Regions from separate parts of the Homo sapiens genome. Here regions 1, 2, 3, 5 and 6 are each linked to region 4. Evidence: fine-mapped expression QTL. A gene starts in region 4. Each other region holds a variant in brackets. All regions are shown on one strand. Distances are between the middles of the regions. Region 1 overlaps SDSL (serine dehydratase like). Region 2 overlaps TPCN1 (two pore segment channel 1). Region 3 overlaps PLBD2 (phospholipase B domain containing 2). Region 4 holds the start of PLBD2 (phospholipase B domain containing 2). Region 5 overlaps DRC10 (dynein regulatory complex subunit 10). Region 6 overlaps PLBD2 (phospholipase B domain containing 2).

What was found.
Region 1: its variant is fine-mapped to the expression of PLBD2 in iPS cells (HipSci, PIP 0.95).
Region 2: its variant is fine-mapped to the expression of PLBD2 in whole blood (INTERVAL, PIP above 0.99).
Region 3: its variant is fine-mapped to the expression of PLBD2 in sun-exposed skin (GTEx, PIP above 0.99).
Region 5: its variant is fine-mapped to the expression of PLBD2 in skeletal muscle (FUSION, PIP 0.95).
Region 6: its variant is fine-mapped to the expression of PLBD2 in whole blood (INTERVAL, PIP above 0.99).

What each region holds. Positions count from the first base shown.
Region 1 is chr12:113,433,914-113,438,668 of GRCh38, reverse strand. SDSL (serine dehydratase like) reads right to left here. Exons shown (of 8, transcript NM_001304993.2): 5 at 4,447-4,535; 6 at 3,113-3,340; 7 at 1,794-1,918; 8 at 393-783. The coding sequence ends at 590. Among named protein-coding and RNA genes, the nearest start is that of SDSL, 14 kb to the right of the region's middle. The variant G/A (reference allele first, on the strand shown) is at 2,680.
Region 2 is chr12:113,239,148-113,243,902 of GRCh38, reverse strand. All of the region lies in intron 2 of TPCN1 (two pore segment channel 1), which reads right to left. Among named protein-coding and RNA genes, the nearest start is that of TPCN1, 20 kb to the right of the region's middle. The variant A/GCACACACACACA (reference allele first, on the strand shown) is at 2,110.
Region 3 is chr12:113,385,286-113,390,040 of GRCh38, reverse strand. PLBD2 (phospholipase B domain containing 2) reads right to left here. Exons shown (of 12, transcript NM_173542.4): 10 at 2,952-3,104; 11 at 2,135-2,297; 12 at 1-1,582. The coding sequence ends at 1,415. Among named protein-coding and RNA genes, the nearest start is that of SDS, 16 kb to the left of the region's middle. The variant G/A (reference allele first, on the strand shown) is at 2,167.
Region 4 is chr12:113,356,307-113,361,061 of GRCh38, reverse strand. PLBD2 (phospholipase B domain containing 2) reads right to left here and starts at 2,475. Exons shown (of 12, transcript NM_173542.4): 1 at 2,172-2,475. The coding sequence starts at 2,461. LOC105369989 (a long non-coding RNA gene) reads left to right here and starts at 1,552. Exons shown (of 3, transcript XR_945346.3): 1 at 1,552-1,732. RefSeq lists an enhancer at 1,217-1,716 and silencers at 2,052-2,111, 2,162-2,661.
Region 5 is chr12:113,210,650-113,215,404 of GRCh38, reverse strand. All of the region lies in intron 1 of DRC10 (dynein regulatory complex subunit 10), which reads left to right. Among named protein-coding and RNA genes, the nearest start is that of DRC10, 8.1 kb to the left of the region's middle. The variant A/TA (reference allele first, on the strand shown) is at 2,229.
Region 6 is chr12:113,390,482-113,395,236 of GRCh38, reverse strand. It overlaps PLBD2 (phospholipase B domain containing 2), which reads right to left. Exons shown (of 12, transcript NM_173542.4): 12 at 3,608-4,755. SDS (serine dehydratase) reads left to right here. Exons shown (of 8, transcript NM_006843.3): 7 at 1,221-1,345; 8 at 2,088-2,792. The coding sequence ends at 2,296. Among named protein-coding and RNA genes, the nearest start is that of SDS, 11 kb to the left of the region's middle. RefSeq lists an enhancer at 1,824-2,023. The variant G/A (reference allele first, on the strand shown) is at 2,385.

The DNA.
Region 1 (4,755 bases), 78 kb before region 4:
ATGGGGATGGTAATAATGGTTTTTACTTCCTAGTACCTTTGTGAATGTTAAAGAAGACAATGAGTAGAAAGTTCTTAGCAAAGTTTCTGGTATATAACAAGCACTGCATGAAGACTGGTGTTATTTTCCTCTCCTGCCTAGGCCTGAGAAGTGATAGAACATCTCCCTCTCCTTCCTGACCTGGTCAACCTGGGCTGGTCCTCCAGGTAAAGGAAGCCCATTTAAGATCTCATAATGGTTGGATTCCTTTAGAGACTGAGGTTTTCAAGTCTTGGCTTTGTTGCCTAAGATGGGGCTTGGAGTCACTTTATTACAGAAGTGGCAACAGGATTGTGGTGTGTCTCCTGTGAGCTCACTGACATGGAAAGATAGGATCCATAGCATTCGCAAACTCAATTCAGAAAGTGTTTATTGGCCGGAGTTGTCGGAGAGCCAAAAGAAGCAGTCCAGGAGGGCTTCCTTCAGGAGGCAGCCAGCACAGTTGCACAGGGCAGCTTCCACTGCCATCTGCCAGCACTGAGTCCTCCTCATCCAGACACAGGACTGTCCATGGGCCTCTCAGGGGTCTTTGGGGCCAGGATGGGACCCCTCAGACCTGGCCCAGGTGGGTTTTCAAAGCCTGCAGCTCTCGGCTGTTGATGTTGTTGCCTCCACACACGATTACCACAACTGAAGTCAGGGAAGGGGGCAGGCAGCCCTCGGCCTGGAGCCTCCGCAGGAGGCCTGAGTAGATGGCTGCTAAGGCTGCCCCACAGGCAGGCTCCACCAGCATACGCTCATCATCTGCCAGGATCGGGGGATGGAGAGAGGAAGGAAAGGGAAGAAGAACCACTCGGTGCTCAGCAGGCCCTGGGCACGGCAGATCCTTGCAGCCATCTCTCCAGCCAGTCAGCCATTCATCTGCTCTGCTGGCAATCCATCACTTGTCTCACGCTCTCCCCATCCATCAGCCTGGCCTCCTATCCTTCCACCATCCACCTTTTATCTCTCTATCCATCCATCCATTCCTCTATCCATCATTAGACTATCTATCTGTCCATCCATCAGTGTACCCATCCATCAACATATCCATCCATCCACCCATTCATAGCCATCCATCCATTCCTCTATCCATCATTTGACTGTCTGTCCATCCATCAACATGTTCATTAATCAATGTGTCTGTCCATTCATTCATTTCTATACCATTCATCAATCCGTCACTTCATTATCCATCCATCCGTCCATCCATCCACTGTCCATCTATCCATTACCCACCTTTCCACTCACTCATATATTCATCCCTTCAATCAACAAACATCTATTGAGTGCCTACTACCTGCCATGCCCTATGCCAGGAAGGCCCTAGGGACACGTCAGGGACTAAGACACACCAGCCCTCATGGGGCTCACATCAGTGATGTAGAGGGATAAGAACCAGGAGGTTATGAACACAGGGAGTGGTGCATTGGAGGTCCACAACCCAGGCAGCGTGGGGTGAGTGATCAAGGGAGGCTTCCTGAAGGAGGTGCTATGATGGCTGATAGCCCTCAGTCACATCAAACCAATAGGGAGCAGGGCCAGCCAGAGAGAGGAGCAGCATGTATGAAAGTCTGGGGGCTAGAGACAGCAAGATACACTCCTTCTTTATCCTCACCCCCTTCCATCTACTCGACGTGCACTTAGTGCACAGTAACTGCACACCTAGCCAGTGCCTGGTGCTGAGGATACAGATAAGACAGAACACACTCTTGCTAGAGGATGCAGGGACTTCGTGGGTCTCTGAGCCCAGGTGGAGGACAGGGATCACTCACCCAGGAGCTGCTGCACAGCGCTCACAGCCTCGGTGTCCTCCACCACTTCAGAGTGAATCTTGCACACCTGCATGCACTCCAGGGCCCGAGCGGCCACCGTCTTGGCACCCAGGCTCTTGGCCACACTGCAGGATAGAGCAGGGTGGGGCAGGGAGACCAGGGGCTCAGGGAAGAGCTGGTGAAACAGGTCTCTCCCCAGCCCCAGCCACCCCCTCCCATCCTGCCATGGGCTGGTTGGAGCTCAGCATTATAAGTCACAGAGGAGGTGCTCAAAAATAGTGTGTCCTTGCCGGGCGCAGTGGCTCACGCCTGTAATCCCAGCACTTTGGGAGGCCAAGGTGGGCAGATCACCTGAGGTCGGGGAGTTCAAGACCAGCCTGACCAACATGGTGAAACCCCGTCTCTACTAAAAATACAAAATTATCCGGGTGTGGTGGTGCATGCCTGTAATCCCAACTACTTGGGAGGCTAAGGCAGGAGAATCACTTGAACCCAGCAGGTAGAGGTTGCAGTGAGCTGAGATCGCGCCATTGCACTCTAGCCTGGGAAACAGAGTGAGATTCCATCTCAAAAAAAAAAAAATGCTCATCCACCAAGAACCTCAAAATGTGATCTTACTCGGAAATAGAGTCTTTGCAGATGTAATTAGTTAAATTAAGGTGAAATCATACTGGATTAGGGTGGGTCCTAAATTCAGTGATCATGTTCTTTTTAAAATTTATTGGCTTTTGGGGGGTTTGGGGGAGGACAGGGTCTTGCTAAGTTTCCCAGGCTGGAGCACGATGGCTATTCACAGGGACGATCATAGCACACAATAGCCTCAAACTCCTGGGCTCAAGCAAACCTTCCGTTTCAGCCTCCCAAGTAGCTAGGACTACAGGCGTGC[G/A]CTACCATGCCCAGGTAATTTTTGTATTTTTTTAGTAGAGACAGGGTTTCACTATATGTTGGCCAGGCCGGTCTCAAACTCCTGACCTCAAGTGATCCACCTGCTTCAGCCTCCCAAAATGCTGGGATTACAAGCATGAGCCATGGTGCCTGGCCTACATTTTCAAACTTATTTGCAACACACATGGATTGCTTTTGTAATGATAAGTCAATGAAAGCTTGTTTTAAGAACTGATTAGGTTTACATGAATCATATTCCTCATCTCCTTTTTCAGCACTGCCTTCTAACTCAGGTCCACTTTACTGTGGTTGGAGTCCCAGGACCAAGGACAGCCTTTTGGGTGCCCCCGTCTCCACCGGCTGGGACTGGAAGGCCCTAGGACAGTGGCACACCCACCCTCCAGCCCCTACAAATGTCCCCAGCCCTTACCCACCTGGTGATGTCTGGAAGTGTGACCAGCTTGCCGGCTGTGATGGCCGCATTGAAGCAGTGTGCCCCATGGGTCTCCATGGCAATGATGGGTACATGCTGCCAGCCCACCTCCAGCAGGCCAGCCACCACCCCGGCCAGGAGACCCCCACCCCCAACTGCCAGCACCAGGGCACCTGGTGGGGTCCTCAGCACTGCTTTCAGCTCCTGCACCAGGCTGGCGTGGCCTTTCCTGGGGAGGGGGGGTGAGAGGGAGAAGCAGAGTGAGGGAGGACCCCAGCCCAGATGGCTCCTGTGGTGGGGGAATTTACCAGGGGTGGGTTCTCTGCCCCCTCATATACATAAACCCCTCCCCACCATCCCCATCCCATCCACGGTGAGGGGAGAGGAAGTCCTGCAACAGTTACTTCACTCAGCTTCATTCATTCTCTTTATTTTTATTTTTTTGGATAGAGTCTCACTCTGTCACCCAGGCTGGAGTGCAGTGGCACGATCTCAGTTCACTACAACCTCCACTTCCTGGATTCAAGCGATTCTCCTGCCTCAGCCTCCCGAGTAGCTGGGACTAAAGGTGCGCACCACCACGCCCAGCTAATTTTTGTATTTTTAGTAGAGATAGGGTTTTGCCATGTTGGCCAGGTTGGCCTCGAACTCCTGACCTCAGGTGATCCACCCGCCTCGGCCTCCCAAAGTGCTGGGATTACAGGCGTGAGCCACCGCGCCTGGCCTCATTCATTTTCTTTATTATGTATTTGTTTGCTCATCCCTTCCCATCTCCATCAACCTCCCAGGCCCTTTCTTGGACATTATCCCAATTTAGCCCCCTCCCCAACTTTGCAAAGAGGCAATGGCAATGTGTGGTTAAGAGGGGACAAGTGTATCACTTGGGACCAGCCTGACTGCAGCCCTTTGTATCTGCCATGTACTTAGCTGTGTGATCCGGGGCAAGTTGTTTGACCTCGATGTGCCTCAGTTTCCTCACCTATGAAATGGGGATAATAGCACCCACCTCTAGGGCTTTGGGGAGGGTAAATAGAACAGTGCAGGAGGAGCCATTAGCCTGGTGCCTGGTCCCAAAGCACATATTCAGTAAAGGAGACTTGGTACTATCACTTCCATTTTACACACATAGAAACTGAGGCACAGGATCTGGGGTGCTTTGCACAAAGTCCCACAATTCACAAGGGGGCAGAAGTGGGATCTGAACCCATGTCTGCCTGGCTTTGAAGCCTCTTCTCCCCTCTGGGCCTCAGTTTCTCCTTCTGCCCAATGGGAGGACCCTGACTCAGTGAAGGTCTCCCAGCTCTGGACTCCTGGGGAGAGGGGCGTCAGCCTTACCATATTAGGGGGTGGTCAAACGGGGGGACATTCTCCCAGCCGTCCCTCTTGGCCAACTCTTGCGCCCTCAGATTGGCCTCGTCCCAGACCTACAGAGAAACCAAGGGCCCTCAGAACAGCCGGGAGTGGGACTGCTATGGAGGCCGGAGCAGAGGCCCAGGATCTCCTTGGTGGCCCCAGGATCTAGTAGTCTGGGGACAGCCCTGCAGATGAGACCATACCTGGTGTGGGCCCAGAGGCCTCCTGAGAATTGGACAAGCACTTCCAGGCGGACAAACAGATGCCATGTGCTTTCCACAATACCCAAGC
Region 2 (4,755 bases), 120 kb after region 4:
CGGGGGCAGTGACTGCAGCCTGAGATGCCCACTTCCTAACCGTCCACATGAGGAACACACAACAGACATCCTAAGGTTGCAAACATTGCCTTGAGAACACCTTTCTAAACTTTTTTTATTTTATTTTTATTTTTATTTATTTATTTTTGAGATGGAGTCTCACTCTTGTTGCTCAGGCTGGAGTGCAGTGGCACAATCTTGGCTCACTGCAACCTCCACCTCTCAAGTTCAAGTGATTCTCCTGCCTCAGCCTCCTCAGTAGCTGGGATTATAGGTGCCTGCCACCACACCCAGCTAATTTTTTGTATTTTTAGTAGAGACAGGGTTCACAAAGTTGGCCAGGCTGGTCTCAAAATCCTGACCTCAGGTGATCCACCCACCTCGGCCTCCCAAAGTGCTGGGATTATAGGGATGAGCCATGCTTTCCCATGGAGTGGGATTACAGGCATGAGTCTGTGCCTGGCCTCTAGTCTTAATAAATCACATGATAATTTTGGGGAGAAAAAGGGAGGATGTAGTATTTTTTTTTTTTTGAGACAGGGTCCCACTCTGTCATCCAGGCTAAAGTGCAATGGCACGATCTTGGCTCACTGCAACCTCCATCTCCCGGGTTCAAGTGATTCTTGTGCCTCAGTCTCCCAAATAGCTGGGAATACAGGCGCCCGCCATCAGGCCTGGCTAATTTTTGTATTTTTAGTAGAGATGGGGTTTCACCATGTTGGCTAGGCTGGTCTTGAACTTCTGACATCAAGTGATCCACCCACCTCAGCCTCCCAAAATGCTGGGATTACAGGTGTGAGGCACCGCACCCGGCCAGATGTAGTTTTAAAAGACTGACCACCTACATGCAAACACATATGGTTTAATTTGAGGAGACATTTATTCAGCACTTACTGTATACCAGGCATTGTGCTAGGTGTTGGATTAGAAAAGGTGAAACCATGGCCCTCGCCCTCATGGAACTCTCCATCAGTAGGTAATGAAGGATCGTGACTCTGGTGCACTGAGATCTAAAATGGGCTGGGATGACAAGGGCCCTCCGTGGGGGCTGGTGGCCAGTGGCAGGGAGGAACTCAGGGGAATGCCAGGGCTGGCATTTCAAGCATGAGGGATGAGGAGGTATTCACAGGGTGGATGGGGATGGGGTGAGTGGCACATTCTAGAAACAAGGATAGTCATTCAGAGAGCACAGAGACTTCAACAGCAGGGCACGTCTGAGAAACTGCAGAGGGTTCTGTAATTCTGAAGCTTAAAGTGCCAGAGACCAGTGACCAGGATGACGCAGTGGGCAAAGGTAACAGCCACGATTCGCATTCAGTACTTACCACACACCAGACACGGTTGAAAGGGCTTTACGTTAATTAATTCTTCTAAGTGTACAAAGGCCCTACAAACAAGACTTGATTATTATCCCCAGTTTACAGAGGGTGAAACTAAGGCCCAGAGAAGCTGAGTGACTTGCCCAAGGTCACAGAGGGAGGAAACGACGGGCAGCCAAGCCCTCACCTTTCCCTCCACTGTTTCCGCAAGGCTGGGGGTGTAGGCCAGGCGGAAAGCCATGCTGAGGGCCTGGACTTGAGCCACTGGGGACTAATGGTGTGGAGCAACCTGATCAGGTGTGCTACTTGGAAAAACACAGCCAAGGAGGTCAGTCCTGGCTAACTCCCTAACCCATCTGCAAACATTCTGCATGGGCAAAACCGCAAGTTCCTTTTCCCAGCACAGCCGTGGCCAGCTCACATTCGTGAGGCAGATTAAATTGCCAGGGGCCGCCACGGTCATTTTTATTGTCTAATCCTCCTTCCTGAGATGGAGAACTGTGTCTTGTCCCTACAGCATGCCCCCCGGTTTGCCAGATGTCCACGGGTAATTTCTTGGTGAGGCAGGACATGACTTCTTCTTTAGTCCATGAATTTCAAGACCCAACTTGGAATTGTACTTCCTGCTCCCATGCCACTGGGTTTATTATGAAACAAAGGGCTTTCCCTGCCACTGCTCACTCACTCACAAAGTATTTATTGAGTACCCGTCATGTGTAAAGTGTTTTAGACGCTTTAAAAAACATTTGTAAAGGCCCTATGCTTCCTGCTGTCTCATACACACACACGC[A/GCACACACACACA]CACACACACACACACACACACACACACACACGCAGAGGCACGCAAACGCCACTGTTTACCCAGTGAAGAGTACAGCACCTGTGCGAACATCTGTTCCATATTCACTTGGAAGCATCTGAAATGCTAATTGTGAAACACCCAGGGACAAGGAAGGGAGCCGGAGAAGAGCAAATGGAGATTAAAGGCATTTTTCACTGTGCACTGGTGCGCTCTGGTTCCCCTGCAAGAGGTCAGCAGAAAGCCAGTGCTCGGAAGAACAAGTTTGGCTTGAGACTCAAGCTGCATGAAGGCTACTGATGTGTCAGCTGATGGCATCCACTCAGCACAGATCAAAAGTCCGCTCTAGTCCTTAACCAGAAACACCTGGGGGCTGGCTGGACCCGGCTTCCATGAACACTGGCCACGCCCCAGCACCTGGATCTGCTGCTGCTGCTGCTGCAGGTGGCTTTGTTCAGAAGAAGAGTAACAAGAGGTGAGGCGGCCATGAAGCAAGCATGGGCACATTGGGGAAGTGACAGCTGGAGGACAGCTACATCCCACAGAGAGCTTGATGGCCTAGGCCTGCCACTTCTCCAGGGCCCTGAATTCCTATGCAGTCAATGGCCAGGCACTGCTTTCGGCCTTCCCTTCCTTTTGCTTCAGTTTCCCTTTCTGTTGGTGGGGAAGGCAGCCCAAAAGGAGCATTGTGAATAAAGGAAAATACAATGGAAATCAAGAAGCCACCCTAAAGAATGAGCAGGAGTGGCCAGGAGCGGTGGCTCATGCCTGTTATCCCAGCACTTAGGGAGGCTCACCAAGGTGAGCAGTTCACCTGAGGTCAGAAGTTCAAGACCAGCCTGGCCAACATGGTGAAACCCCATCTCTACAAAAATACAAAAATTAGCCAGGCATGATGGCAGATGCCTGTAATCCCAGCTACTCGGGAAGCTGAGGCAGGAGAATCACTTGAACCTGGGAAGCCGAGGTTGCAGTGAGCCGAAATTGTGCCTCTGCACTCCAGCCTGGGCAAGAGTGAGACTCTGTCTCCAAAAAAAAAAAAAAAAAAGAATGGGCAGGAGATGGAGCTGCTTGATTTTTAATTCTCCCTGCAACACAACAGGAATGGTAGTCAAGGAAGTTAACTACTGTCCCTCAACTGCTACAACACTTCAGAAAATGCAAACTACCAACTCACATCCCTTAAGAGGAACCGGAAGAATGTGAGAACGGAGGAAAGGTTCACATCCTCAATGCAGAAAGTCCTTCAATTACCTACTCATGGGTTGAGACTCTGACTGTAGACAATCATATACTGATTTTACAATGAAGAAACTGCAACTTAGGAAAAAACAAGCTCAGCTCCTCATTCAAGGATGTTCAGCTATCAAGAGACGATGCCAGAAATTCAACCCCATCCTTTGCAGACTGCGCGACACTCAGAAAATGTTCAACCGTTGTAGACACCAGCAGGTACCATCACTCCTCAATAGACACACATTCATCACAGCCTAAGAATCTCCCAAGCCACCTCCATTTATAGACTTCTGTGTCCCCATACACTCTGGACGGCGTCTGGTCTCCAAGAGGAAATAGCAAAAAACAACATGCAACAAAATCAAATGGGCCAACTAGGCTGGAGGCTGAGTGGACTTTAGCACTCATAAAATCTGCGCCCTGTTGAAGCTACCAGACTGGCTCGAGGCTGTGCAGTAAAAACTGCAATTCCAAACAACCAGGCAGGCCAGCCAAGTGTGAACAGCCGAGCCCGCAAGAAGAGAGGCCCCTCGAGAGTCACAGAGAGAAGACATCATGCTTGTCGACGACCACCCACAAGTGAAAGGCAGCGCAGCCGGCAGCTTGGAGCAGCTCCAAGCCATTAGCCAGCACTAAGCACAGGTCGCTCTGCCCAAGCTGGTTTTCAGCAAGTGCTGAAAGAATTAGGAAAAAAAAATAATAAAATCCCAATCTAACAAAAAGAGAGATAAAAAAGAGAGACAGGCAGTCTACAAATGGTAGGGCGGCGACGGGGAAGCTTAGATGGAAGGAAGGTTGGGATTGGACATGTGTGGGCTCCTGGGGAGTTCGAAGCTGGAAGCAGAGACCCAAACATCCAAAAAGTAGGCTGTTCCTAGGGGCAGCAACGCCATGCCCTGCTGGGCTACTTCTGGTCTGATCACATGTGAATGAGTCTCCTTGTCACCCTCCAGTGGCTCCAGGGGCTGGTTTAGCTGTGACAGTCACCTGGGACCCTGGATGTTTTTGGAAACCGGTGACTCACTCCCAGATATGCAACTTCTATTATGTCTATTATTGTGCCCAGAATATGTGTAGAAGAGACATGATCCCTGCCTTTGCAAAACTTGTACTACCAGAAAGAGGCACAGCTGTGTAAAACATCAGCACCTAAAACAACAGCCATTAACACCCAGGCATTACACTGGGTTAGGCCTCTACCTTCCTGCCCTGCCCTGCCCAGTCATCTCAAACAGGCATCAGGGAGACACAAGAAAGAAACTCACAAACCAGGTAAGCCCTAGCTGGGGGGAGCAGGATTCACAAAACCCTGCTTGATGCTGGATGAACAGAATGGGTATTATTCATACTACGAAAGGATTCTTTGCCAAACTTAGCCCTCCCACCTATATTTTATTTTGAAATATATATGT
Region 3 (4,755 bases), 29 kb before region 4:
GTGGGTGGGTAAGTGGATGGAAAATGGACAAATGAGGCCAGGTGCGGGGGCTCACATCTGTAATCCAAGCACTTTGGGAGGCCAAGACGGGCGGATCACTTGAGGCCAGGAGTTCGAGACCAGCCTGGCCAACATGGTGAAACCCTGTCTCTACTAAAAATACAAAATTAGCCAGGCATGGTGGCTCATGCCTGTAACCCCAGCTACTTGGGAAGCTAAGGCAGGAGAATCGCTTGAACCCAGGAAGCAGAGGTTGCAGTGAGCAGAGATTATGCCATTGCACTCCAGCCTGGGCAATAGAGTGAAACTCCCACTCAGAAAAAACAAAAACAAAAAAAAAAGAAGAAGAAAGAAAATGGACAGATGGAGATGGCTGAATGGTTGGATGGGTGGTTGGATGGGTGAGTGGATGGATGATAAATGGATAGGTAGATGGATGGATGGATGATGGAAGACGGATGGGTGGGTGGAAGGCTGTGCAGATGGATGATGGGTGAGTATGTTGGCAGATGAATGAATGGACAGAAGGACAGACAGAGGGCTGCACAGGAGGCTGCATGGGGGATGGCGCAGAACCCAAACCTGAGAGGAGAAAAAGCGCTGACCCCACCTTCCCTGCCACCCCAAGAAGCACAGCATGGGGCCACAGCCGCTCTTGTTTAATGGTGGCACAGCCTGCGGTCTGGTTCCTCCATCAGGGCGCTGTGGGTATGGCCCTGAGGTGAGGGGCAGGCCTGGGGTGGGGTGGGGTGGGGCCTGAGGCAGAAGCATGGGGGCTGACCCTCTGCCTGACATGGAGAGAGGACATTCAGAACCCTCCAGCCACAGATGGCCAGAAACTTTGGTTTGTGTTTGTTTTCAAGTTTCTGTCCTCAAGGAAGCTGCCCAGAAAGGGAGACGAGGGGACTGCTTCCTGAGGGAGCAGAGGGGCCAGAGCTGGGAGGAGCAATGCCAGCCGAAGACAACGCCCAGACAAAGCTCACCAGCTCCAGGGCCACCCGTGGGAATGCAGCTGGGAGAAGGGTGCTGGAACAGGCTCCTTCCACCCCATGGGAGCCCCAGAGTCTGCCCCAGGACCTTCCCAAACCCTCAGGAAGGAGAAGCACGAGGAAGGGGCCCCAGAGGTGGGAATGAGGTTGAGAGAGCAGCAGTAGGAAACAGACAGAAACAGAGAGTGGGAGATTTAGGGCAGGGCAGAAGAGACGCCACGGTGCCCACCCACCTCGGGGGAGAGAGGGGGTCAGTTCTGAGCCCCATCAGGTTCGTGACCCACTCTAGGAGGAGATGACTCAGACCCCAGATCAGAGAACGAAGCCCCCAGGAGGGGCTGGAGTTAGAAGTCCGGTGGCCTTGGGACGGGGGTGACCCTGACGAGGGTCAGCAGGGGCGAAAGCAGCAGAGCAGGGACAGAACTTCAGTCCCATGAAACCTTGACAGGCGCGAACTTCCAGAGGTCTGGCTGGCCCATGTGCAGCAGGCCGCTGAAGGGCGAGGTGCTCCACTGGAACGGGGGCACCTGGTCCCACGTGGGACCGCTGGCCGCCAGCAGGCTCAGGATCCTGGCCAGTGACATGCTGGTCACCTGGGGACAGGGCAGAGCCGCAGCTGAGCAGGGGTCCTGGCCTGCCCCAATCCAGGCACCCAGCCTCCCACCCTGACCTTGACCCCAGAGCCCAATTCTGAACTGTCACTTTTTTTTTTTTTGAGTCTCTGCTCTGTCACCCAGGTTGGAGTGCAGTGACGTGATCTTGGCTCACTGCAACCTCTGCCTCCCGGGTTCAAGCAATTCTCATGCCTCAGCCTCCTGAGTAGCTGGGATTACAGACGCCCGCCACCACGCCTAGCTAATTTTTGTATTATTAGTAGAGACGGGTTTTCACCATGTTGGCCAGGCTGGTCTCAAACTCCTGACCTCAAGTGATCTGCCCACCTTGGGCTCCCAAAGTGCTGGGATTACAGGCATGAGCCACCGTGCCCAGCCCATACTGTCACCTTTACTGTGACCCCAACCACAGCCCAATTCCGACTGTGATTCCTGCCCCGCCATCAGCTTTGCCCCAACCTGTCCCTTCCCCAAAGCTGGTGATGGTGACTTCCCCCACCCACAGCTCAGGCCCTAGGGAGGAGGCAGCACCTTCACATCGATACCCCCATGGGAGCGCTGAC[G/A]CAGGGCCTGGAAGGGGTAGGAGCCATTGGCCGGGTTGAGGTCGGAGCGGGCGGAGATAGCATTCTCCCCATTGGGCTGGGGGTTGCAGGCTTTGCACAGTGACAGAGGGTCATGGAGGAAGTCATTGTACCTGGATGGGGAAAAGGAGGGAACATCAGTCATCCCAGGAAGGAGAGGCTAAGACGGGGGCCAAAATCCTCACAGGCAGCCCCGTTAACAGCTGCCAGCCTTCAACTTGATGAGCCCCTCCCACTGCACACTACCCCCGACAGTTCCTCTGCCTGGGGCCCGGACCCCTTCACCTAAGTCACTCTGCCTTCATTATTCAGCTCTCTGCTCAGGCACTCATCCTCAGGGAAGGCCTCCATGCCACCACCCCAGCCAGGTGAGGCACCCGTTTGTTCCTGGATAGCCTCTCTTGGAACACAGCCATCTTTACACATTGACACCAGTGCAAGAACTTGATGGATTTCTGCACCGCCCAAGAGACAGGACAGTGGGGCACAGGTTTTCTACCTGTTGCTCCTGGTACCAAGCATAGTGCCTAGCAGTACAGGTCACTCAACAGATGTCTAGCATCCTCCCCTTAGCTATGAGGACAGTGACAGGGCCCAAGTGGAGAGCGGCCACCGAGCTGCTGCACTGGTGTCCAACATCTGACCACCCCCTGCTGGCCCTCTGGGGCTGGCAGCAAAGTTTGAATGAGTTGGTACAAAAAGCGCACAGGAAGTTCTGTGTTCCTGCGGCCTCCCTCTCCCCAACCCACCACCCAACTGGCACCTACCTCATCAGCCTGACCATGGAGTCCATGTCTTGTACCAGTGACTGGTTCCGCCGGAAGATCTGGGCCCGGGGGCTCCCGTCATAAGAAAACCAGTCCCCATACTGGGCCACTAGGGCCTGCAGCCCACTGGCATTGAACACAGTCTCGAAGGACCTGCCGGGGACAAGGATGGTCACCCATGACCCCCACTGGCCTCACTCAGCCAAGGCTGTGGCCAGGGAGGGGAGGGGCAGTCACACCAGGACATTATTACTTACAACTACGACATTCAGGCTGGGTGCAGTGGCTCACACCTGTAATCCCAATACTTTGGGAGGCCGAGGCGGGCAGATCACCTGAGCTCAGGAGTTTGAGACTAGCCTGGCCAACATGGTGAAACCCTGTCTCCACTAAAAATACAAAAATTAGCCAGGCACGGTGGTGTGTGCCTGTAATCCCAGCTACTCGGGAGGCTGAGGCATGTACTCACTTGAACCTGGAAGGTGGAGGTTTCAGTGAGCTGAGATCGAGCCATTGCACTCCAACCTGGGCGACACAGCGAGACTCCGTCTCAAAAAAAAAAAAAAAAAATTAGCCGGCGTGGTGGCACGTGCCTGTAATCCCAGCTACTTGGGAGGCTGAGGCACAAGAATCACTTGAACCCGGGAAGCAGAGGTTGCAGCAAGCTGAGATCGCACCATTGCACTCCAGCCTGGGCGACACAGCGAGACTCCGTCTCAAAAAAAAAAAAAAAAATTAGCCGGCGTGGTGGCACGTGCCTGTAATCCCAGCTACTTGGGAGGCTGAGGCACAAGAATCGCTTGAACCCGGGAAGCAGAGGTTGCAGCAAGCTGAGATCGCACCATTGCACTCCAGCCTGGGTGACAGAGCGAGACTCTGTCTCTAAAAACAAACAAACAAACAACAACAACAACAACAAAACCAACTATGACATTCGGGATAACAATAATGTCTTCCATTTGTGCTGGGGGGTGGCTTGGTGGGGTGGCCAAGCTTGGGCTCTGGGGCCCAAAAGGCATGGCATCAAATCCTGCCTTCAGTCCGGGTGTGGTGACTTATGCCTATAATCCCAGCACTTTGGGAAGCCAAGGCAGGCGGATCACTTGAGGTCAGGAGTTTGAGATTAGACTGGCCAACATGGTGAAACCCTGTCTCTACTGAAAATAGAAAAATTAGCCAAGGATGGTGGCTGGCGCCTGTAATCCCAGCTACTCAGGAGGCTGAGGCAGGAGAATCACTTGAGCTCAGGAGGCGGAGGCTGCAGTGAGCTGAGATTGCACCATTGCACTCCAGCCTGGGTGACAGGGCAAGATTCTGTCTCAAAACAAAAAACAAAAAACAAATCCTGCCTTCACCATTCGCCAACAGGGGAAGCTTGGGAAAGTGAGGTACTTTCTCAGGGCCTCAGTTTCATCATCTGTGAGATGGGAACAGGAACTCTAGTGACCACATGTGGCAATTTTAAGAGTCAAATGAGAAAATGCAGGTAAAGTAAGTGAGCCTCAGGAGGTGACAGCTGTACAGCCCAGTAAGGCAGATCCAGTCAGAGACCCTGGCAGGGGCCAGTCCCTGAGCCTGGCCACCCCACACCACCCTGCTCTGGGTGTTAGAACCAGAGGTCACATGGATGCTGACTTAAGCCATGCAACTACACTGCCAAACTGTCTGGGCTCTCCTGGCCAGAAAAGGGGGTAGGCTGGGATTCTTTGTTCTGTGGGTTTAAAAACATTGCCTAGGAAGGAGCTGGGCAAGGAGTGAGGTGGATGCCCTGGAGGGTGACGGGGAGCGGAGTGAGAAGGCACGC
Region 4 (4,755 bases):
TCTGAGGACCTCAGTTTCCTGCCTATAAAATGGGGCTCGCTTTATGGTTTTCCCTGCATCAGAGCCTCAAGGGCTGGCAAACTCAAAGGGAAAGGGGCATGTGAGCGTAAGAGGAGGGGATGAGAGAGGGTGCCGAAAACAAGCCAGAAAGTCCAAGATGGGCAGATCACCTGAAGTCAGGAGTTTGAGACCAGCCTGGCCAACATGGTGAAACCCCATCTCTACTAATAATACAAAAATTAGCCGGGCATGGTGGCACACACCTGTAATTCCAGCTACTTGGGAGGCTGAGACACGAGAATCGCTTGAACCCAGGGTGGGGAGGTTGCAGTGAGCCAATATCGTGCCCCTGCACTCCAGCTGGGCAACGGAGTGAAACTGTGTCTCAAAAAATAAAATACAAATAAAAATAAATAAACAGTGCTTTCTGTGACCCCAGTGAATTTCCATGACCCTTTTGGTCCTACCTTGATATGAGGGAACATGCTCAGAGAGGTGAAGGGATTTGCCCAAGGTCACACAGCAGAGGGGCTGAGCCTGGAAGAACTTTCCATCCAGCACAATCAAGGAAGCCTTCTCTCCACTTCCATGTTTACCATAGTCAAGAGCAACACAGCCCAGGAGGGGCCTCCAGAGGCCAAAGCCCCCTCCCCATGCTGGGCCTCGCTCCTGCCCCTCCTCGCCTGAACAGTTCTGTCATGTCCTCTTGATTCTGCTATGCAGGGCCAAAAACATGAGTGAGTCAGCAAAGAACGGGTCACCAGATCCAAGAGTCCCGGCAGCCCCCGAGGCCAGCCACAAAGCTTCAGTTCCCTCCACAGATGCCAGCTCACTCTGTGGCCTCCTCTCTCTGGGAGCCTTCCCAGATTTACCCCAACCAGTGCCCCTGTGTCTGTGCAAATATCTCCCCCAAATCTCACGTCTACTTGATGTACCCCCCAAGTGCCACCAGAATGGGGGTGTCCTCGGCATCCTGTGTCTCCCTAACACCTGCAGAAGCCAATGGATGCCAGTAAAATGGATAGGGGCTAAAGTGGGAGGAGGCCCTTTCTGCTGCAGGGGGCAGTGTGGTCTGAGCACAGACCACATCCTGGGCACATCCTAGTGCTAGGGTTCCCTAGCATCATCTGGACACTAGGATATGACGGATGCACCCCGGGTTCCCTAGGATCCCCCAGCACAGCCTGATCCAGCGTCTGGGCCCTGCTGACAAGGCTTTGAAGCTGATCCTTCCCACTCCCACTGACTCTGATTTCTCTTCTATCGCTGTCTGTGTTTCCCACTGAGTAGAGACAGCTGCTCAGCTGTGTCCCTAAGGCCAACCATCAGGGTAATGAATAAATGAATGGGCACAAGCCCTTGTACAGAACTTGCAGCACATGACCACCCAACTAGAGCACATCCTCAAAATCTGGGCCACAGATGGGGAAACGGGAGCCCAGACAGGCGGAGGAGTTAGGTGAGACTCACACATCAGAATGACAGCCTGGGTTCCAGCAATAAAGATGGTGAGCATGGCTGCCAAACACGGCATCCAGCCAAGGACTTCCCCTTGGACCAGGACACAGAAGACAAGGGAGGAGCAGAGCCCTAGCAGGATACTAAATGGGTCTATGTGACTTTAGGGACCCTCTGCTTTTGGACTAGCCTGGAACCCAGGTTCAGTCCTGCTGACCTGGCACTGGAAGGGAGGCAGGGTGCTGGCACCCACGAGCAAGCCACAGCCAAGCAGGTAAGAATTAGTCTCCTGCTGAGTTCTCATCACCCCTCAGGCCTGGGGACAGGGGGCTGGCCTCCATGGGGTGAGGAGGCAAAGTCTAGGGAAGGGAGCAGGTCCCCGTGAGGATAGAATTTACCCACCAGCCATGGACCTGATCCAGATGCAGGCACTGCGGCCTCGGTGGTAGGGAACTGGCTTCTTGGGGACAGAAGTACTGTCACCACTGGCTGAAGGCAAGGGACTGGCCCCATGAGGTGAGGGATGCCGCAGTAGCCAGCTCCCAAACAGGGTACTTGGCCCGCAGGGCGGTGCTGCAGCCTCGGGAGTAGCTGACCCCCAGAGAAACGGGCGTTCCCACCCGGCAAGAGGCCGGTCCCGGGAACAGGCGAGGTCCGGCGCCCACGCATCCCCCTCCCCCGATGGCCCCGCGTGGGGATAAGCCAACCCTTACCCAGTCTCGCGGATGGCGTTGGTGAGGTTGGCCCAGGCCACGGCGTCAGGGTGGCGTCCGTCCACCATAAGCAGCTGGCCCGCCGAGACGTCCAGGAGCACCGAGCGGCTGCGGGAGGCTGGAGGGACCTGCCCATCGCGCGCCCAGCGGCCCCCCGGCGCTGGGATCGCCCCCGCCAGGCCGCTCAGGAACGGCCCGACCAGCAGGGCCAGCACCAGGGCCAGCGCCAGCGCCCGCGTCAGCGCCCGGGCCAGGTGGCTGCCGGGGTAGCAGTACATCTGGCCCACCATGACCGCACAATGCTGCGCCCCGCAGCCCGGGTCACGTGACTGCGCTCTGCCATGGGCGGGGCCGAGGGCGGGCGGGGCCGGGCTTGGGCTGAGCCTTTCCGGGATGGGAGGGGCTGGCGCGAGGGGAGGCCTACGGGGCGGGACCCACCTTAAAGAGCCCGGCCGCCCCTTCCACCTACGCAAACCCGGTTTAGCACACTTCCCCAAGTTTTTTTTTTTTTTTTTTTTTGAGACAAGACAAAACCTCCATATGTCGCCCAGACTGGAGTGCAGTGACGCGATCTCGGCTCATTGCCACCTCCGCCTCCCGGGTTCAAGCGATTCTCCTGCCTCATCCTCCTGAGTAGGTGGGATTACAGGCGCGCACCACCACGCCCAGCTGATTTATGTAATTTCAGTACAGACGGGGTTTCGCCATGTTGGCCAGGCTGGTCTTGAACTCCTGACCTCAGGTGATCCGCCTGCCTCAGCCTCCCAAAGTGCTGGGATTACAGGGGTGAGCCACCGCGCCCGGCCAGATTTATTTAATGGTATTTGCCATTTATTTAATACAGTTATCTAATGCAGTCTTTATTCCAACTTTTCCCATTGTCCCTCAAATACCCTTTTTACATGTGTGTGGGAAAAAGCTGTCTAACTACTACTCAAAACCTAGATGCCGTCGGGCGCGGTGGCTCACGCCTGTAATCCCAACACTCCAGGAGGCCAGGGCGGGCGAGTTCAGGAGTTCAAGACCAGCCTGGGCAACATGGTGAAACCCCCGTCTCTACTAAAAATACAAAAAAGTAGCCGGACGCAGTGAGGCGCGCCTATAGTCCCAGCTACTCGGGAGACTGAGGTAGGAAAATCACCTGAGCCCGGAAGGTCGAGGCTGCAGAGAGTCGAGATTGCACCACTGCACTCCAGCCTGAGCAACCAGAATGAGACCTTGTCTCAAAAGAAAAAAAAAAAAAAAAAAACCTAGATGCAATAAAAGATTAATGCATTTGACTGTATAAATTTTTTAACTTTTTCATGTCAAAAAACTCAATAAGCAAAGTCAAAAGACATCTGACAGACCAGGAGAAACTATTTGCAACATATATCATATATATACATTACATATATATATGTATATATATCTCAACATATATCATATAATATATCAGGAACTCTTAAAATTTGAGAGGGAAGGCCAGGTGAGTGGTTCATGCCTGTAATCACAGCACTTTGGGTGGCCAAGGTGGGAGGAATGCTTGAGCCCAGGAGTTTGAGACCAGCCTAGGAAACCTGGCAAGACTCTGTCTCTATAAAATATAAAAATTAGCTGAGCTTGGTGGTGCACACCTGTAGTCCTGTTGTGGGAAACTGAGGAACGGAGAGACCAATATGAGAGAACAGGAGGATGTTTATTTCAACGTACGCACTGGCTCAGTGGATTCACATCCAAAAAGCTGAGCCTAGAACAAAGATATTGTGGGGTTTTTATAAGCAAGCTTAGAAAGGTAAAACAAAAGTAGTTAATCATATAGTGCATAACTTGTGGCCTTGCATAGCTGGTGGCCTTGTAGCTGCATCAAAAGTAAAACAAGAACTGGCTAAATAGAGAGGTTTGTAAAACATAGTCATGCTTAAGAGACCAAGGAAAGGAATAGCAATAAAATAATTTGTCTTTCTCTCTTTTTTTTCCTTCAACCTTGCTCTGGAGGCGGGCGGTGGGGTGGAGGGCGGGGTCTGGAGCCCAGTCCTCTGGCCTTGGCTTTTCGGACAGCGTTATCTTATAACTGTCCTTGAAGTGAGCTGCTAAGCAGAGGAAAACTTGTTCTTCTTCTTTTTTAACCCTTGCCTTGCCACATTCTGGGCCTTAGCTCTTACTTCTCTTGGAGTGAATATATGTAGTACTTATTATTATTATTATTTTAATTTCTGCCTCAGTCCCAGCTACTGGGAGGCCGAGGGGGGAGGATTGCTTGAGCCTAGGAAGTCGAGGCTACAGTGAGTTGCACTACAGCCTGGGCAACAGAGCAAGAAGTTGTCAAAAAGGAAAGAGAGAGAGAGAGAGAGAAAGAGAGAGAAAAGGAAGGAAGGAAGGGAGGGAGGGAGGGAAAGGGAAGGAAGGGAAGGAAGAAAGGAAGGAAGGAAGGAAGGAAGGAAGGAAGGAAGGAAGAAAGAAAGAAAGAAAGAAAGAAAGAAAGAAAGAAAGAAAGAAAGAAAAGGTTTGAGAAGGAAAATGTGAAAACCAGACAGAAAACATGGGCAAAAAGCATCAGCAAATAATTCATGAACAAAGATGTAGAAGTGACCATTATATTTAT
Region 5 (4,755 bases), 150 kb after region 4:
TTAACATAATTTTTGAAGTAGTACTAAAAGTCATAAAAGCGTAACACTTTTGAGCAAGGATTTCATTTCATTCCCTCAACAGTGCTGTGTCCCATTTCACAGGTAGAACGTCAAGGCTTAGAGAGGTTAATCGACTTACCCAAAGCCACACAGCCAGGAAGTGGTGAGACACTGGAATTGCATTCCAAATGTGTTTTTCGTTTCCACTTCAGTAATGAGGAAATGAAAGCCCAGAAGATCAAGTGGACTTGCCCAAGGCTATATAGCTTGTGGTCAGTGGAAAGTATTTCATCATAACCAGCAACATAGAAATCTGTCCCGGGGGGCATGTTCCCTCCCAATCTGAGTCACTATCCCATGTCCTCTGTCTCCAAAGCACCAGATAATCCTGGAGCCTGCAGCCACCCAGCCAGCATTACAAACAGGGTCCCAACTGTCAATACCTCCAGCATTCATTGCTGCAGCCCTAGCCTGGGAATCTTTTACAGACCAGTTGTAAACCATAAAACACAGGTTCTCAAAAAGAACAAGAGAGGAGGATTGGGTAATAGTTCAAAATTAGTCACAGAAAGAAAAAAAAAACCACTCAACTATGAAAAAGTAAAAAATTCATTACATTTAAAACTTTTGTTTAAAAAATTCCAAGCCCTGAGTAAAGGGATGCAAAAGAATTCATAGGCCAATTGTTGGCCTACAGTTCTATCATGAAAATATGACTCTCTTTTCTGGCTCCAATTCAGGACATATATATTTTGCAAAACAACATTATCCTATTATGCCAGCATCTCCCAGTGAGGAGACAAGCCTGTTGGTAAATCTGGGTTTGCCATCTCATTTATTCAACAGTGATTTCTTTTTCTTTTCTCTTTTTTTCTCTTTTTTTTTTTTTTTTTTTTTGAGACGGAGTCTCACGCTGTCACCCAGGCTGGAGTGTGCAGTGGTGCGATCTCAGCTCACTGCAACTTCCATTTCCCTGGTTCAAGTGATTCTCCTGCCTCAGCCTCCCAAGTAGTTGGGATTACAGGCATGTTTCACCACACCCGGCTAATTTTTGTATTTTTAGTAGAGATGTTTCGCCATATTGCCCAGGCTGGTCTCAAACTCCTGACCTCAGGTGATCCACCTGCCTCGGCCTCCCACAGTGCTGGAATTACAGGTGTGAGCCACTGAGCCCAACCGCAACAGTGATTTCTTTATTGAGCACCTACTGTATAGTAGTTGGTTGGGATAGCAGGTTTCATCATGAATCTGTTGCTTCTTTCTAGCCCCTCACTTTCCCCCTCCCTAGACTTGAAAGCCTCAGATAAAACATACAGAGTTCGGAAGAAAGCTAGAGGTTTGGAGGGTAGTGAGATCTTTCTGAGGCTAAAAAGAAAATTCCTCTTGAGCCCAGGAGTTCAAGACCAGCCTGGGCAACATAGCAAGACCTTGGTTTTTTTGTTTTTTGTTTTTGTTTTTTTTGAGACAGAGTCTCACTGTGTCACCCAGGCTGGAGTGCAGTGCTGCAATCTCGGCTCACTGCAACCTCCACCTCCCAGGTTCAAGCAATTCTCCCGCCTCAGCCTCCACAGGTGCCCACCACCATGCCCAGCTAATTTTTGTATTTTTAGTAGGGACAGGGTTTCACCATGTTGGCCAGGTTGGTCTCAAACTCCTGACCTCAAGTGATCAACCTGCCTTAGCCTCCCAAAGTGGTGGCATTACAGGCGTGGGCCACTGCGCCCGGCCAGAAGTCAATCTTAAAATCAAGAGACTGGACAGAATAGTGCTGATGGGGTGCAGGCCCTGTCACTTCCTAGCTGTAAACTAACTAGAATCATCTAACCTCTCTCTCTGTCTCCCTTTCTTCATCTGTGAAATAGAGGTAATAATAGCACCTACCTCATAGGGTTGTTGCAAGGATTAAAGGAATTAATTCGTATATAGCATTCAGAACAGTGTCTGCTACACAGTAAGTTCTCAAGAACTTACTTAGCTAATGTTAAAATGGTATTCCTTAAAATGAGATCCGGATGAGGATGGAAAAACTACCTATCAGGTACTATGCTTATTACCTGGGTGATGAAATAATCTGTACACCAAACCCCCATGACATGAAATTTACCTATATAACAAACCTGCACATGTAACCCGAACCTAAATTAAGAGTGAATTTAAAAAGAGAGAGAGAAATCCATTTCCCACACTCCAGTTGTTTTGGTTTTTTTTTTTTTTTTTTTTTTTTTTTT[A/TA]GCACCCTCTGACTTTTCCACTTGCCAGTTTGGATTTGTAGGGTAGTTGTTAAGTGTTGGGTTTTTTCCTTCTCTCCAGGGGGAAAAAATATATAATTTAGTTCAAATCTTTTTTTTCCTCAAAATATTCTAAGAGCAAAATTAATAAAATATCCAACAAGCCTGTTTGAATGAAGACGAGGTATAATTTGCATGATAAAGATATATTTCCATTTATAAAGTTCATCAGCAGAATTAATGACAAATAAAGGGAATATCCAATTAAAGTTTCCCATCCATTAACAATTTGCTTCACTCTCAGGGCAGGAATTTTAAACGGAGATGCTTAAGTTGGAAATGATTTAAATATTAAGGTTGGTGGCATTAAAAAGGACATGAAATGATCATATTAGGATTCAAGGAAAAGAGATTCTCCAGTCATTTTTGTCGTCAGAGTCAGATGCATTTCCCCTCAATCCTAGTTCCACGGGCTTTATCTTGTTCACCCAAATGAGCTGTCAAGAAATGATGGGTGTCATCATAATCAAAGAAAACAAGTTTGCCCTTTAAAGCAAAAGAGGTAATTTGGCTGAAAGCAAATTGGAAACATTTCATGTAACGTTGCGTTTCCAGCCGCACTCTCTGAAGAATTCAGGCATTTTGATTTATGCCTGAGAGCTTTGGGGTACAATGGAGAGGACTGCATTCATTAACTACCTTGTTCACATTCATCCTGTAGCCATGGGCAAAGATCCTTCATCCTCAGAGAGCCTGAGAAATCTCCATGGCTGTCCCTAAAACTTTTTTTTCACTTACAAGATAGGATCTAGGCTGGGCATGGTGGCTCACGCCTGTAATCCCACCACTTTGGGAGGCCAAGGTGGGCAGATCACCTGAGGTCAGGAGTTTGAGACCAGACTGGCCAACATGATGAAACCCTGTCTCTATTAAAAATACAAAATTAGGCTAGCGTGGTGGTGCACGCCTGTAATCCCAGCTACTTGGGAGGCTGAGACAGGAGACTGCTTGTACCTGGGAGGCAGAGGTTGCAGTGAGCCCAAATCACACCATTGCACTCCAGCCTGGGTGACAACAGCAAAACTCCAGCTTAAAAAAAAAAAAAAAAAAGAGGAGAGATAGGATCTCGCTCTGTCACCCAGGCTGGAGTGCAGTGGTGCGATCATGGCTCACTGTAGCCTCAACCTCCCTGGCTCAAGCAATCCTCCTGCCTCAGCTCCCCAAATAGCGGGGACTACAGGCACCTGCCACCATGACAGGCTAATTTTTTTTTTAACTTTTTGTAGAGGTCTCATTTTGTTGCCCATGCTGATCTTGAACTCCTGGGCTCAAGGAATCTTCCCTCCTTGGCCTCCCAAAGTGCTTGGATTGCAGCTGTGAGCCACCATGCCCAGCCTCCTAAAACTTTGTCTTCAGGAAAAGCCTCAAAGGATCTCATGAGATTCATTAGGGAGCAGGAAGTGTGTGTGAATCAAAGTGATTGAAGATAATTCCCAATCCTCTGCTCCCAAAGGGGCTTCTGGTTTGTTTTTTGTTTTTTTGTTTTTTTAAGAGACAAGATCTCACTCTGTTGCTCAGGCTGGAATGCAGTGGCCTGATCATAGCTCACTGCATCCTCAAACTCCTGGGCTCAACAAATCCTCCTGCCTCAGCCTCCCAAAGTGTTGGGATTACGGGCGTGAACCATGATACCTGGCCTGATATTGAATACATTCTGCCTTGCCAAGGAACTAAACATCCTTAGCACCTGATCTGGCCTGCCTTTCTTTTTCGTTCTTAGTCACTTTGGGTGTTTCTTTGATTCCCTGCCATTCTCTTGGTGTGTTCTTTGGTTTGGTGAGTTGAAGTTATCTTTTGTGGCTTCAAGTGTCACTTCCTTCTCCTGGGCAACATAGCAAGACCCTATATCTACAAAAATAAAAATACAATAATTAGCTGGGAATGGTGGCACGTGCCTGTAGTATCAGCTACTCGGGAGCATGAGGCAGGAGGACTGTTTGAGCCCAGGAAGTCGAGGTTGCAGTGAGCCATGATCGTGCCACTGCACTCCCTGGATAATGGGAAGGCCAAGACACCATTGTCCACTGCAGTATGGCAGCTAGAGCTCAATGAGTTTAAAAGTGAGCTCATTGTCCTCCCCTCCAAATGTCCTCTCCTCTCCCAATTTCTGCCATAGTTTCTTAAGGGCCCCATCTTTCTCTACCAGTCACCCAAACTCAAAACTCTTTCACTCAAGTCCTAATGATTCTTTCTTCAAAACATTTCTCACATCTACAGACAATATGAAAATAAAAGTGGCACAGGTAACCTGTAAGTAGTAACTTACAGCTTTCATTGGTGCTTACTTCTTAGGAGAGGGGGAAAGACAGACAATAAACAAATAAACAGGTGCATATAGGGATGTCAGATGGTGATACTTAACCTGGAGAACGAACAGGATAAGGGGGAAGAGATGAAGAAGAATCAGGGTGAGGGATGGGGATGTTATGGGGGGTGTCCATCTGAGACATGGTGTTGGGGGGTGAGCAGA
Region 6 (4,755 bases), 34 kb before region 4:
TGAGCTGGGAATAGAGCTAGTGGTCACCCCAGGAAGCTGGGGACAGCGTCAACACATTGGTTACCAGTGCAGGTCTTGAAGTTATACAGATCCTGCTTGCAGCCCCAGCTCCAGCACTCCCTAGGTGTGTGACCTTGGGCAAGTGACTGTACACTCTCTGCCTCAGTTTCCCCTTTCCAAAATCAAACCAATTAACAACAGCAGAATTCTTGTGTGAATTCAATAATGCTTGTGAAGTGCTTGGCACCTAACACTTTCTCAAGAAGTACTCAGGGCGCTTGTTACTAGCAGGGAGGACTATTTGAGAATTCCACATAGGGCCGTGGGACTCAGTACTCTCCCAGGAGGACTCCTTGGAGGAGGTGGCCTTAATCCTGAGCCTTGAAGGACACAGCAGGATGTGGGCAGGCAGAGTGGTGCTAAGCTTCATGAGGGTTAACCAGGTAGCGGTTGTAACCCGGAGCAAAAGCAGGGAGTCCTAGCAGGGAACAACAAGGGTCCTCTTAGGCATTTGCTCCTGACTTAGTGTTGATCAGAATATGACGCTGTGCCGAGGCAGGAGGATCACTTGAGCCCAGGAGTTCAAGACCAGCCTGGGGTCGGGCATGGTGGCTCATGCCTGTAATCCCAGCACTTTGGAAGGCCGAGGGGGGTGGATCACCTAAGGTCAGGAATTCGAGGCCAGCCTGGTCAACATAGTGAAACCCCATCTCTACTAAAAATACAAAAATTAGCCGGGTGTGGTGGTGGGCACCTGTAGTCCCAGCTACTCGGTAGGCTGAGGCTGGAGAATTGCTTGAACCCGGGAGGCAGAGATTGCAGTGAGCTGAGATCGCACCACTGCACTCCAGCCTGGGCAACAGAGCAAGACTCCGTCTAAAAAAAAAAAAAAACAAAAAAACAACAAAAAAACAAACAAAACAAAAACCCGCCTGGGCAACATAGTGACACTCAGTCTCAAAAAAATTAAAAAAATGATACTAAAGAATATACTATATGATGTCAATTCAAACACTCTGCACCTTATTAGAAGACCCCACTTGGTTTGGGGATCCCTGAGGCTTTTCAGGGTTTTACAGCTGCAGAGGTGATACCTGTCCCCCTGCCCCCAGATGCATTGCCTTCTCTGTCTCACATCCATCTCCTTCTCTCCCTCCCTGCCCCCATCTCTCTCCTGTTTCCCCCACTCCCATCCTCTTCTGGGTTCCCACTTCTCTCAGTGTTGCCAAGGCCCTGGGCGTGAAGACTGTGGGGGCTCAGGCCCTGAAGCTGTTTCAGGAACACCCCATTTTCTCTGAAGTTATCTCGGACCAGGAGGCTGTGGCCGCCATTGAGAAGTTCGTGGGTATGTGCCAGGTCCTCCCATGACCTGACCTGCTGACTCAGGCGCTAAGTGGCTGTCCACTTGGTATGCCACTGGGGATCCCACTCACCCCAAGTTTCCTTCACAGTTCTGTCTTCCACCTCTGCCTAGAATTTTCCATTAATAGAAGATAATACAATGCCGTGTAGAAATAGAAAAGCAAAAGCCACACATAATGGAAAAGTAAATAGAAAAGTAAGCCTGATAACCATAGCAGCAGAAAACAATAAGTGAATATTTAAAATGTTGCTTCTGAGTTTCCTGGCAGCCAGGGTAAAAAAAGGAAAACATGGGGCTCAGAGTTTGATTCATTCAGAGGTGAGTCTGTAACTAGGCTGGACTCTTTCTGGGTTCCGTCTAGGGCAGGGATGGCAAAAAAGAGAGAAAAAAATAGTACCATTTATGCTTCTGTACCTGCTGCACACTTGGCTAATCAACCATGGAACTCTTGCTCAGATGATGCCTCAGAATCCTTCTCAACACAGTGCTCACGCAACCACACTCATTCTATCAGTGTTAGCACTCATGATGAAACCCAGGCCCTGGCTCAGGCTTGGAAGGGCCAATTCAGGCCGATGACGGGACGTTTGGTTCAGGACCTGCGGCTGCAGCCAGGGCTGAGAGCTGATTGGCTCAGTATTCCCAGGTCCTGCCAATGGCCTGTCAGCTCCTGTGCACCCTGGGAAACTCAGGCCACGCCCCTGTCACGCCCCTTCTCTGGCAGATGATGAGAAGATCCTGGTGGAGCCCGCCTGCGGGGCAGCCCTGGCCGCTGTCTATAGCCACGTGATCCAGAAGCTCCAACTGGAGGGGAATCTCCGAACCCCGCTGCCATCCCTCGTGGTCATCGTCTGCGGGGGCAGCAACATCAGCCTGGCCCAGCTGCGGGCGCTCAAGGAACAGCTGGGCATGACAAATAGGTTGCCCAAGTGAGGACGGACCCCTTACCGATCTGTGCTCTCCTAGCCCAAGAGACCCCTGGAGGGGCTGGAGTTTTATCCAGCGCCTCGTCGTATGTTTG[G/A]CTGAGCACCTGTGGCCTGGGTGCAGGTTAACTTCTTGTTATCAGGAGCCCACTATGCAGAGGCCAAAGGTCGGCAGCCAGCGAGGCTATGAATTGGACCTTTTTGGTATCTGTGTGACTGCTCTGTGCCCATCCTTAGCCAACTTGCTGGCGTGACAAGTGCCCACAAGTAACACACCAGGTACCCAGAGCAGGGTGGACAGGAGAGACCTGAATCACAGCAGTGAGGAATTCCTCAAAGCTGTGACCTCGCCCCTGAACTTGTTCCCAGTGAAGGTCAACAGGGCCACCAACCAGGGTTGAGGAACCATCTCAGCCATCCTCCCAGGAAGCCCACCCCTGACCCTTACTAATTTTTCTAATGTGCAAACTTTTTCATTGAAAAATAAAATATATTTATGAAACAAAGATCCTGTGCATTTTCCCATCATCAGCTGTCTCCTTTCCTGCTTTCCTTCCACCCCAAGTCTGCTCTCAGCCCCAGCTCTCAACTGGGGCCCCAGAGTGAGGCCAGGAGCCTGACTCCAGCTAGTCTTGCATGCCAGGACAGGGGCATCCCTGTACCACAGGAAGCAGGTGGCTAAACAAGAGGGACTTGGGGTGGGACAAAGGCTGCCTCCGCTGAAGGCAGAAGCAGCTGGGGAGGCCAACTTCATTCTGATATGAAGTCCTTCCTACTAAGTCAGAATTATTTCATCACAGACCCAATGGAAGCAAAGAAGTGAGGCCCCCTCCCCTGGGCGTGTGTGAGCTGACACTGGACACCCATCTCTGGGAGAGGGAAAGGGTGGGTGGACTTGAAGTCAATGTCATGCAAACCCTCCTCAAACATGGAGCCCTCTCTTCCAACAAAAGCATATGCTGAAGCCCGTATCATAGATCAAAGAGGAATTACTGGGGCTGGCTCCAGAGCATGGAGGGAACCCCACCCTCAGGGTACTTTCTGGATGACCCCAAGTTCAAACTGAAGTTTAAGAGTCACTCAGGGCTGGGCGCAGTGGCTCACGCCTGTGGGAGGATCGCTTGAGCCCAGGAGTTCAAGACCAGGCTGGTTGGCACAGTGAGACTCTGTCTCTACAAAAAGGAAAAATAACTTGAACCCAGGAGGCAGAGGTTGCAGTGAGCCGGGATTGTGCCATTACACTCCAGTCTGGCGACAGAGTGAGACTCCGTCTCAAAAAATAAATAAATAAATAAAAAGGAAAATAAGATAAAACCACAAGTCAATTCCCAACCCCAGACCCCAACCTTGCTTTATTTTCTCCACGGGTTTACCAGCACTGACACACTGCATATTTCATTTATTTTGTTTACTATCTAGTCAATGTAAACTTCACAAGAGCAGGAATGCTTCTGTCCCTTTTGTTATAAAGTATCCCCGGGACCTCATAACAGTGCCTGGCATGTACTAGGGGTTCAATAAGTGTTTGCTAATAAAGAGATGCTGAGTGCATGAGGCCCCAAGTGGGCTGCATCACATCCCCCAGGGAAACGCTGCTCACACCATTACCCCATTTCACAGATGAGGTAATCGAGGCTCAGAGAGGAGTCCATAGCTAGCTAATAAGAGGTGGAGACAGAATTGAAACCCAGGTCTCTGACTCCAGGGCTGTGTGCTTTCCTCTCTCCAAGCACACAGCACTGGGAGAGTCTTGTCTCCAAGGCAGGCTGCATGAGATCAGACAGGGAGAGAGCCTTTTTTTTTGTATCTGTCTGTATACCACAATATGGCTTAGGAAGGTCTTGGTGGTTAACAAGGCTCCCAAATAGGACCCAGAACACAGGTGCTCAATAAACATCTGGATGGATAGATGGATGGATGGATATGAATGAATGGATGGCTGATGGATAGAAAATAGATAAATATGGATGCATGGGTGGATATTAATGAATCTGCACAGACCCGTGTGTGGATGGATGGGTGATAAATGAATAGGTAGGTGGATGGACGGGTGGGTGGGTGGATGGATGAATGGATGGATGAGTGGGTGGATGGATGGGTAGATGGGTGATAAATGGATAGGTGGACGGATGAGTGAATGGGTAGATGGGTAGATGGATGGAAATGAACAGATGGAAATGGTTGGATGGGTGGATAAATGGTTGGAAGGATGGATGGATGGGTGAGTGGGTAGATGGATGATAAATGGATAGGTAGGTGGATGGATGAGTGAATTAGTAGATGGGTAAATGGGTGGAAAATGAACAGATGGAAATAGTTGGATGGGTGGATAAATGGTTGGAAGGTTGGATGGATGGGTGAGTGGGTAGATGGATGATAAATGGATAGGAAGGTGGATGGATGAGTGAATGGGTGGATGGGTAGATGGATGGAAAAACAGATGGAAATGTTTGGATGGGTGGATAAATG